2 linked regions of the Homo sapiens genome follow. The protein of the gene in region 1 purifies or fractionates together with the protein of each later gene. This does not show direct contact. Each region holds a gene or a part of one and is shown on either strand. Other genes may lie near its edges.

Region 1 (3,814 bases):
AATAAGTCTGCGTTGTTTTAAACCACTAAATTTGTGGCGATGTATTATGGCAGCAATTGAAATAGATACAGATCTTTCACAGAGCTTAAAGTCTAGCAGAGATGGATAACACCGATGAAAATTTCTGGCAATGCAAATTTCTCCCACCCTTTGCTTCTCTGAGAATTCATTTCTCCTTGTGGCCTGCTGATGAAATAATATCATCTCCCCTGTGAGGTTTCCTTGATTTCTCTACTACAAATAATCGCTCGTTCCCTGAAATCCTGCAGCTGTTGTTCGTTTTCAGCAAATAACCCTAACAAACAATATTCTGCGGTTTTAAACGATTTCACACACATTTTGTTCATTGAATTGGGGCCTGCAGTCACCCAACTAGTTCTAATCCGGGTTGGAACCACGATTGGAACCTGGTAGGAGAGTCGGACTCCAGACTCGTGCTTCTATTTTAGCATATGGTTCCCAATCCAAGGAGCAAAACGTGTGAAATCACTTAAAACAGGTTATAATCGTGGCTCCTAAGTTAAACTTCTCTGAGCCTCACTTTTTACCCCATCTGAAACACAGGTGTAGCAACAGTTTCTATGGCCTGAAGTTGGGGTCATGCATGCCCAGCACAGACTAGGTGAGCTCTCGTTCCACCTTTCCAACAACCCTGGCGCCCCATTTTTTTTCCAGAGAAAGAAACAGGTGGCCGGGCGCGGTGGCTCACACCTGTAATCTCAGCACTTCGGGAGGCCAAGGCGAGTGGATCACGAGGTCGGCTTTGAGACCAGCCTGGCCAACATGGTGAAACCCCGTCTCTACTAAAAATACAAAAATTAGCCCGGTGTGGTGGCGTGCGCCTGTAATCCCAGCTACACAGGAGGCTGCAGCAGGAGAATCGTTTAAACCTGGGAGGCAGAGGTTGCAGTGAGCTGAGATAGCGCCACTGCACTCCAGCGTGGGTGACAGAGCGAGACTCCGTCTCAATAAATAATAAATAAATAAAACAATATAAATAAGAAACGGGGACTCAAAGAGACCAAGTCACTTTTTCAAGGTTACATTGCTCCTGAAGCTAAGAATGCATGCCTGCCTCGTCTCCCACTCCACCCCGCATACGCCTCCAAGTCTTCCTATTGATAAGGTGGCACACATGGCTGTCTTTTCATTTCACCGGCGCAGTTTGTGATTCTGCATTTATTTCTGCTCATTGGCTGCCTCCCTACCCTACGGGAGGGGTCCCGAGGCCGGACCCGCTGTCTCCGCAGCCGCTGTGCCCGGCACGTGCCCGCCTCCACCACGAGGGGGCGCTATGGGCTAGGGAGGCGCTGCAACCCTGGCAGTCCTTGAACGAGGAGCATCACCTCTCGGAGCTCCCGCTTCCGGCTCTGGAAACGGAATGATAGCTCTAACTCACAGCTGGAGCCCACCCACCCCCAAGTCACGGCGCCTCTAGGGCCTGCTTCCTCCCTCCCTTTCCCCACCTCAAGGCCCGCTTCTTGGGGCCTGGTTGCCCTTCGCCCAGCTATTATTACTGCGGGCGATGCGCCGGCTGGCCAATCAGGAGGCGCAGCGCGCCTGTGACGTCACGAGGTGCGAGGCAGATGAACGCCTGCCCCATCCCGTCCCTCCATTCCCGGGCCCACCGCGCCTGCGCATGCGTGCTGAGCGCCAGAAAAAAAAAAGGCGGGAAAGGACGCTTGCGGCGAGACTCTCCTGCGGGAGCGGGAGGCTTGGGCCTCTCAGGAGGGCACAGGTACGGGGCGCGGGGCGACAGAGGCAGAAACCCAGGCAGCCCCAGACGGCGAGCAGGGCGGGAGAGTGGAAGGGAGGGAGAAGACGGAGAAACAGCGACTGCGACGGGCACAGAGGGAGGACAGAAACGCTGCCCCTTAGGTGGGGAGTGAAACCTCCCGTGAGGGAGCGGCGAGGGCGGCGGGGACGGTGAGAAACGGACAGAGGAGCCCGCGGGAGACAGAAACGGAGGGAAGGGGGCTGACCATGAGAGAAACGAGGGGGAGAGAGAAGAGAGCACGCGGGAGACTGCAGGGAAGGCGCGGGAGATGGAGACTCAGAAAACAACCGTAAGAGACAAAGGAAAAGATACCACAGCGCTGGGCCTGGGGAGAGAACGCAGTGAGAAATGGAGACGATGAGAGTATGAGGTGATATAGCAAAACCGACCGTGAAAAATCGAGTGAGAAGCAGGTGGCGAAGCTGAGAACTGAAAGTGAAAGACAAGAGGACGGAAGATACAGAAACAGTTTGGGCCCAGTGGCTCCCGCCTGCAATTCCAGCACTTTGGGAGGCCGCAGCAAGCCGATGACTTGAGCCCAAGAGTTTGAGACCAGCCTGGGCAACATAGTGAGAACCCATCTCGACAAAAAATCAGGCCGGGAGCAGTGGCTCACCCCTGTAATCCCAGCACTTTGGGAGGCCGAGGCAGGCGGATCACGAGGTCAGGAATTTGAGACCAGCCTGGCCAACATGGTGAAACCCGTCTCTACTAAAAATACAAAAATTAGCCGGGAGTGGTGGCACACGCCTGTAATCCCAGCTATTCAGGAGGCTGAGGCAGGAGAATCACTTGAACCCGGGAGGTGGAGGTTGCAGTGAGCCGAGACCACGCCACTGCACTCCAGCCTGGGCAACACAGCAAGACTCTGTCTCAAAAAAAAAAATTAGCCAGGCATGGTGGTGTGCATCTGTAATCCCAGCTATTCAGGAGGCTGAGGTCGGAGGATCACCTGAGCCTGGGAGTTCAAGGCTGCAGTGAACTGAGATCGCACCACTGCACTTCAGCCTGGGCAACAGAGCAAGATCCTGTCTCAAAAAAGAGAGAGAGAAATTTACCATGAAAAATGGAGTGAGAAACAGAGGTGGTGAAGGTGAGATCTGAAAGAAAAGTGAAAGACTGAGGGGGAAAGACAGATAAATTGACCAGGAAAAACTAGGTGAGAAACAGAGATGAGAGTGTGAGACTGATAATGAAACAAAAAGACAGAAGGACAAGGGAGAAAAAAATAAAGAGAAACTGACCACGAAAACTGGAGTGAGAAATAGATGTAATGAGGGTGAGAAATTGAAAAAGAAAGACAGGGAAAAAGAAATGATGGGAATATGAAACTGACAACGAAAGAAAAAAAATGAGAAAGATGGTGAGAGAGAGCAAAAGAAATTACCATGAAAAAAATACGGCATAAAGACGAGTGTGAGAAATTGAAAATGAAAGGCAAAAAGAGATTGGCACAGAGAAGAAAAGATAGAGAATTTGATCATGGAAAATGAAGTGAGGCCAGGCATGGTGGCTCACACTTATAAACCCAGACATAAGCCCAGCACTTTGAGAGAGTGAGACAGGAGGATCGCCTGAGCTCAGGAGTTTGAGACCAGCCTGGGCAACATAGTGAGCCCGTCTCTACAAAAATTAAAAATGAGCCGGGTGTGGTGGCGCACATCTGTAGTCCCACCTTTTCAGGAAGCTGAGGCAGGAGGATCGCTTGGGCCCGGGCAGTCAAGGCTGCAGTGAGCTGAGATCACACCACTGCACTCCATCCTGGGCAATACAGAGATAGAGATGATGAGGGTGAGAAATGGATAATGAAAAAAAGAGACCAACAGCAAGTGAGAAACAGGAGCAGAGATGGATTCGCAGGGATCCTGAGAGATGGGGATACAAGGAAGACAGGCAAAGAAAAAGGCAGAAGAATGTGGTGACAGTGATGTGGGGGCCAAAGCGGGGCGTGGTCCCAGGTGTGGAAGGAGCTGCAGCAGCAAGACAGAGGCCATAGAGCAGAGGGGGATGGAGCTGTGGCCCTGGAGGCTGATTCTG
Region 2 (3,814 bases), on another chromosome or scaffold:
GAGACCAGCTTGGACTACAAAGTGAGACCACATCTCTACAAAAAATAAAAAAGTAGCCACGTGTGATAGCATGTGCCTGTAGTCCCAGCTACTCGGGAGGCTGAGGTGGGAGGATTGCTTGATCTCAGGAGGTCAAGGCTGCAGTGAGCTATGTTTACATCACCGCAGTCCAGCGTACGTGTCAGAGCAAGACCCTGTCTCAAAAAAAGTAAAAAGTCTACAGTAGTGTACAGTAATGTCCTAGGCCTTCACAATCCCTCCCCACTTACTCACCGACTCAACCAGAACAACTTCCAGTCCTGCAAGCTCCATTCATGGTAAGTGCCCCAAATAGGTCTACCATTTTTATCTTTTATGCTGTATTTTTACTGTACTGTTTCTATGTTTAGATACACAAAGACTTACCATTGTGTTATACTGCTTAGAATATTCAGTATAGTAACATGCTGTACAGGTCTGAAGCCTAGGAGTAACAGGCTATACCACACAGCCTAGGTGTGTATTAGGCTGTAGAATTAGTATGGTATAGCCTGTTGTTTAAGTATAACGTTCACATGACAAAATTGCCTAATCACACATTTCTCAGAACATATCCCCATTGTTAAGTGGCACATGGCTGTAATTAGAACACTAGATATAAAATGGAAGAAACACCATGAAAAAAGGGACAGATGAACTGCTGGGCATGGTCAGGGCAAGAAAACACTGCATTTGACGAGGGAAATCACAGCAGGTGGTGGTGGAATTTGACCTGGGTGATGGTAGGAAGTTGGCAAGTATAGATGAGAGGAGGCCATTCTAGACAGAGGGAAAAGCCAGTGCAAAGGCTTACTGGACAATGTTAAGTAGCCCAGTTTGACCAGGGCAGGTGGCACATTGAGGGTTGTTGCATGGGACTTTAAGGCTGGCATGGTAAGTTGAAGCCATGTAGCAAAGGATACTTACTGATGCCCAACAAAGAATCTGGATTTAATTCAGCCAGATTTTAAAGGTTTTTAAACAGAGGAATAGAGCAACTAACAAAGGAAGAACAGGTACCAGAAAGATCTAGTTACTGGCCAGGGTGGGCGGTCTCGAGGGCCTGATTTTGAAGGGGCTTTGGGTATGGAGGGAAGAGCATAGAGGAAAGAGACAGGTAAAACACACAGGTCTTGATGACTGACTGACGCAGAGGCAAACCAAACCGATTTTGAGGTCCTGAGCTGGAAAAACTGGAATCACTGATGCCAAAACAAGGAGGGGTGGGGGAAGTCGAGGAGGGGAAGGAGAGGGAGGGGAAGGAGGAGGAGGAAGAAGAAGGCAGAAGGAGGGAGAGGAGATGGGGGAGGGGAAGGGGAGGAGGGGGAGGGGGAGGGGAAGGGGGAGGAGAGGGAGGAGGGGGAGGAGAGGGAAGGAGGAGGAAGAAAGAGGAAGATAGGCGAAACATGAAAGGGAGATAGGGAGGAGAGGGAGGGGAAGGGGGAAGAGAGGGGAGGGTGAGGAAGGGGAGGGGGAGGAGGGGGAGGAAATAGGTTTGGAGGGAAGATGAAGAAAGGAAGAAAGATGATGAGGATCATTTTAGTTGAAAACGTTGGTTTTGTCTTTCCACTAACTTTTACCTAGCACCATTTTGCATGATACAGTTCAATCTTCTTGTTCCTTTCTATTCCAAAATAAAAGTGGATTTATAAGTAGAGCAGTTATGATGGAAAAAAATAAAGATTCAGGAGTTCCTAAACAGCCAAGTATTTATTTATTCTCTGTACATTAGTGAACTTAATTTGGGTCCAGGACCAAAAAAAGGTAATAAATTTTAAATTTGACTGTACCCAAATTAAGTTTATTACCAGAGAAAGCTGCTATTTCACTTCAAGGCTACAAAATAAAACGAATTGAAAAAAATGTTATCCTTTCTACCAAAAAATGGGAATCTAAAAGTTCAGTATGGCTGGGTGTGGTGGTTCACACCTATAATCCCCGCACTTTGGGAGGCCAAGGTAGGAGAATCATTTGAGGCCAGGGGTTCAAGACCAGCCTGGGCAACATAGTGAGACCCCCCGCCATTTCTAGTTTTAAAAATTAAAAATAAAATTTTAAAAATTGTTTAAAAAAAGTTCTGTATGAGTCCACCCACCAAAACAAGCAGTAGTCAAAACTGCACATAACTGGCAGTGTTACCTCTCCCTGGGATGACTAGATATAAACAAGAATCAAAGCTTTGAGTTCAAAGTATAAAACTGGAATTTCAGACCCAGTTAGCAGGTGAGGGAGGACTTTGAGGTATGAGGGTCTCCTACTCCACTCAAGGTTAACGCAAGCATGCATATGGCTTTTGTTTCACAGTAGATACACCATCGCAGCATATCTTTTTTCAACAAGCACTGTTCTAAATATAAATTTTTAAAATTTCAGTAAAGTAATAAGCTTTCATTCTCAAAGAAATATACTCTGAACCCACCCTTGTAATCCCAGCACTTTGGGAGGCCAAGGTGGGGGGATCACTTGAGGTCAGGAGTTCAAGACCAGCCTGGCCAACATGGTGAAACCCCGTCTCTACTAAAAATACAAAAATTACCTAGGTGTGGTGGCACATGCCTGTAATCCCAGCTACTCAGGAGGCTGAGGCAGGAGAACTGCTTGAACCCGGGAGGCAGAGGTTGCAGTGAGCCAAGATCACGCCACTGCATTCCAGCCTGGGAGACAGAGTGAGACTCCATCTCAAAAAAAAAAAAAGAAAAAGAAAAAGAAATATACTCTGAACCACAAAACCATTGAAACTGTTATATCATCCTTAAAAAACAGAATCAGAAATGTATGCTAGTTTACAATAGCTCCTTAAATATATGGACTTTTCTTATTTCTTTTGCAGAAGAGGGGTCAGGACATTCAGAGCCCTCCTGGAATCGGCAAGTAGTGGTGAGACTCAGGCAAAGACAAAAACCAGGGGAGCAACAGCACCGGGCTTTCTGCTACCTTCTCCCACCCTGGTGTGACAGTGGTCACAACTTCACATGAAATCAATTTCTGCTCTATAAGAGCTGACATGTCCTTCAATACCGACATTCAGGACAATCATGCGTAACATTTATAGCATGCTTACTCTGTGTCAGACACTGTTCTAGGCACTTCACAAGCATAGATTAATTTAATCCTCTCAATGATCCGAGACTAGGTAATATTGTCATCCCCATTATACAGATGACAAAACGGGGGCACAGGGTGATTAAACAATTTGCCAGAGCTCATCAGCAAGTAAGAGGAAAGCAGGGATCTGGATGCAGGCAGTTTAGCTTCAGAGGCAGCGTGCCTGATCCCAAGACTGTTCTGCCTCTCAGCTTCCTGCCTGTCATCCAAGGATCATACCAGGTCAGATTTCCAGACCAGGTCAAATTCCCACACTCTCACTAGCATTAAAAAAGAAACAGAAAAGCCTGGGAAGAAACATTTGGGACAAAATGATACAAATTTGGTAACGACCTACCAGTTGTTTTTGTACAACTCCTCAGCACCAATGAATAAATACAATGAAATAAGATTCCCGTTTAACTTTTTTTCCAGTGGGAGAGAAGGAGAGCAAGGCAAACAAATCGCCAAACACAGCAGAAAATAGTGTTTATCAGACAGATACCGAGACCCAGGGGTGTGCCGGGTTCTGTGGGCCACATGAGGGAGAGTATGGTGTCTGCCCCTCTCAGAGAGGACTGAATTGCAAAAGCAGACGTTGTCTCTAGTTCCTGGAAGAATGTACTTTGTTACATCCTGTAGGGACCAAACCTTCCAAGGTTTTAATGAAGGACCTCTTGAGAGCTGATCAGCGTATTTTGAGAGGAAAAAG

What was found.
Region 2: the proteins of SSC5D (region 1) and KLHL23 purify together in Homo sapiens (affinity purification with mass spectrometry; one large-scale study listed by BioGRID and IntAct). This does not show direct contact.

What each region holds. Positions count from the first base shown.
Region 1 is NC_000019.10:55,501,672-55,505,485, reverse strand, and holds part of SSC5D (soluble scavenger receptor cysteine-rich domain-containing protein SSC5D isoform 1 precursor), read right to left. Parts: intron 1,371-3,814; coding exon of another isoform or gene 1,300-1,370; exon of another isoform or gene 1,145-1,299; intron 1-1,144.
Region 2 is NC_000002.12:169,736,518-169,740,331, reverse strand, and holds part of KLHL23 (kelch-like protein 23), read right to left. Parts: intron 1-3,814.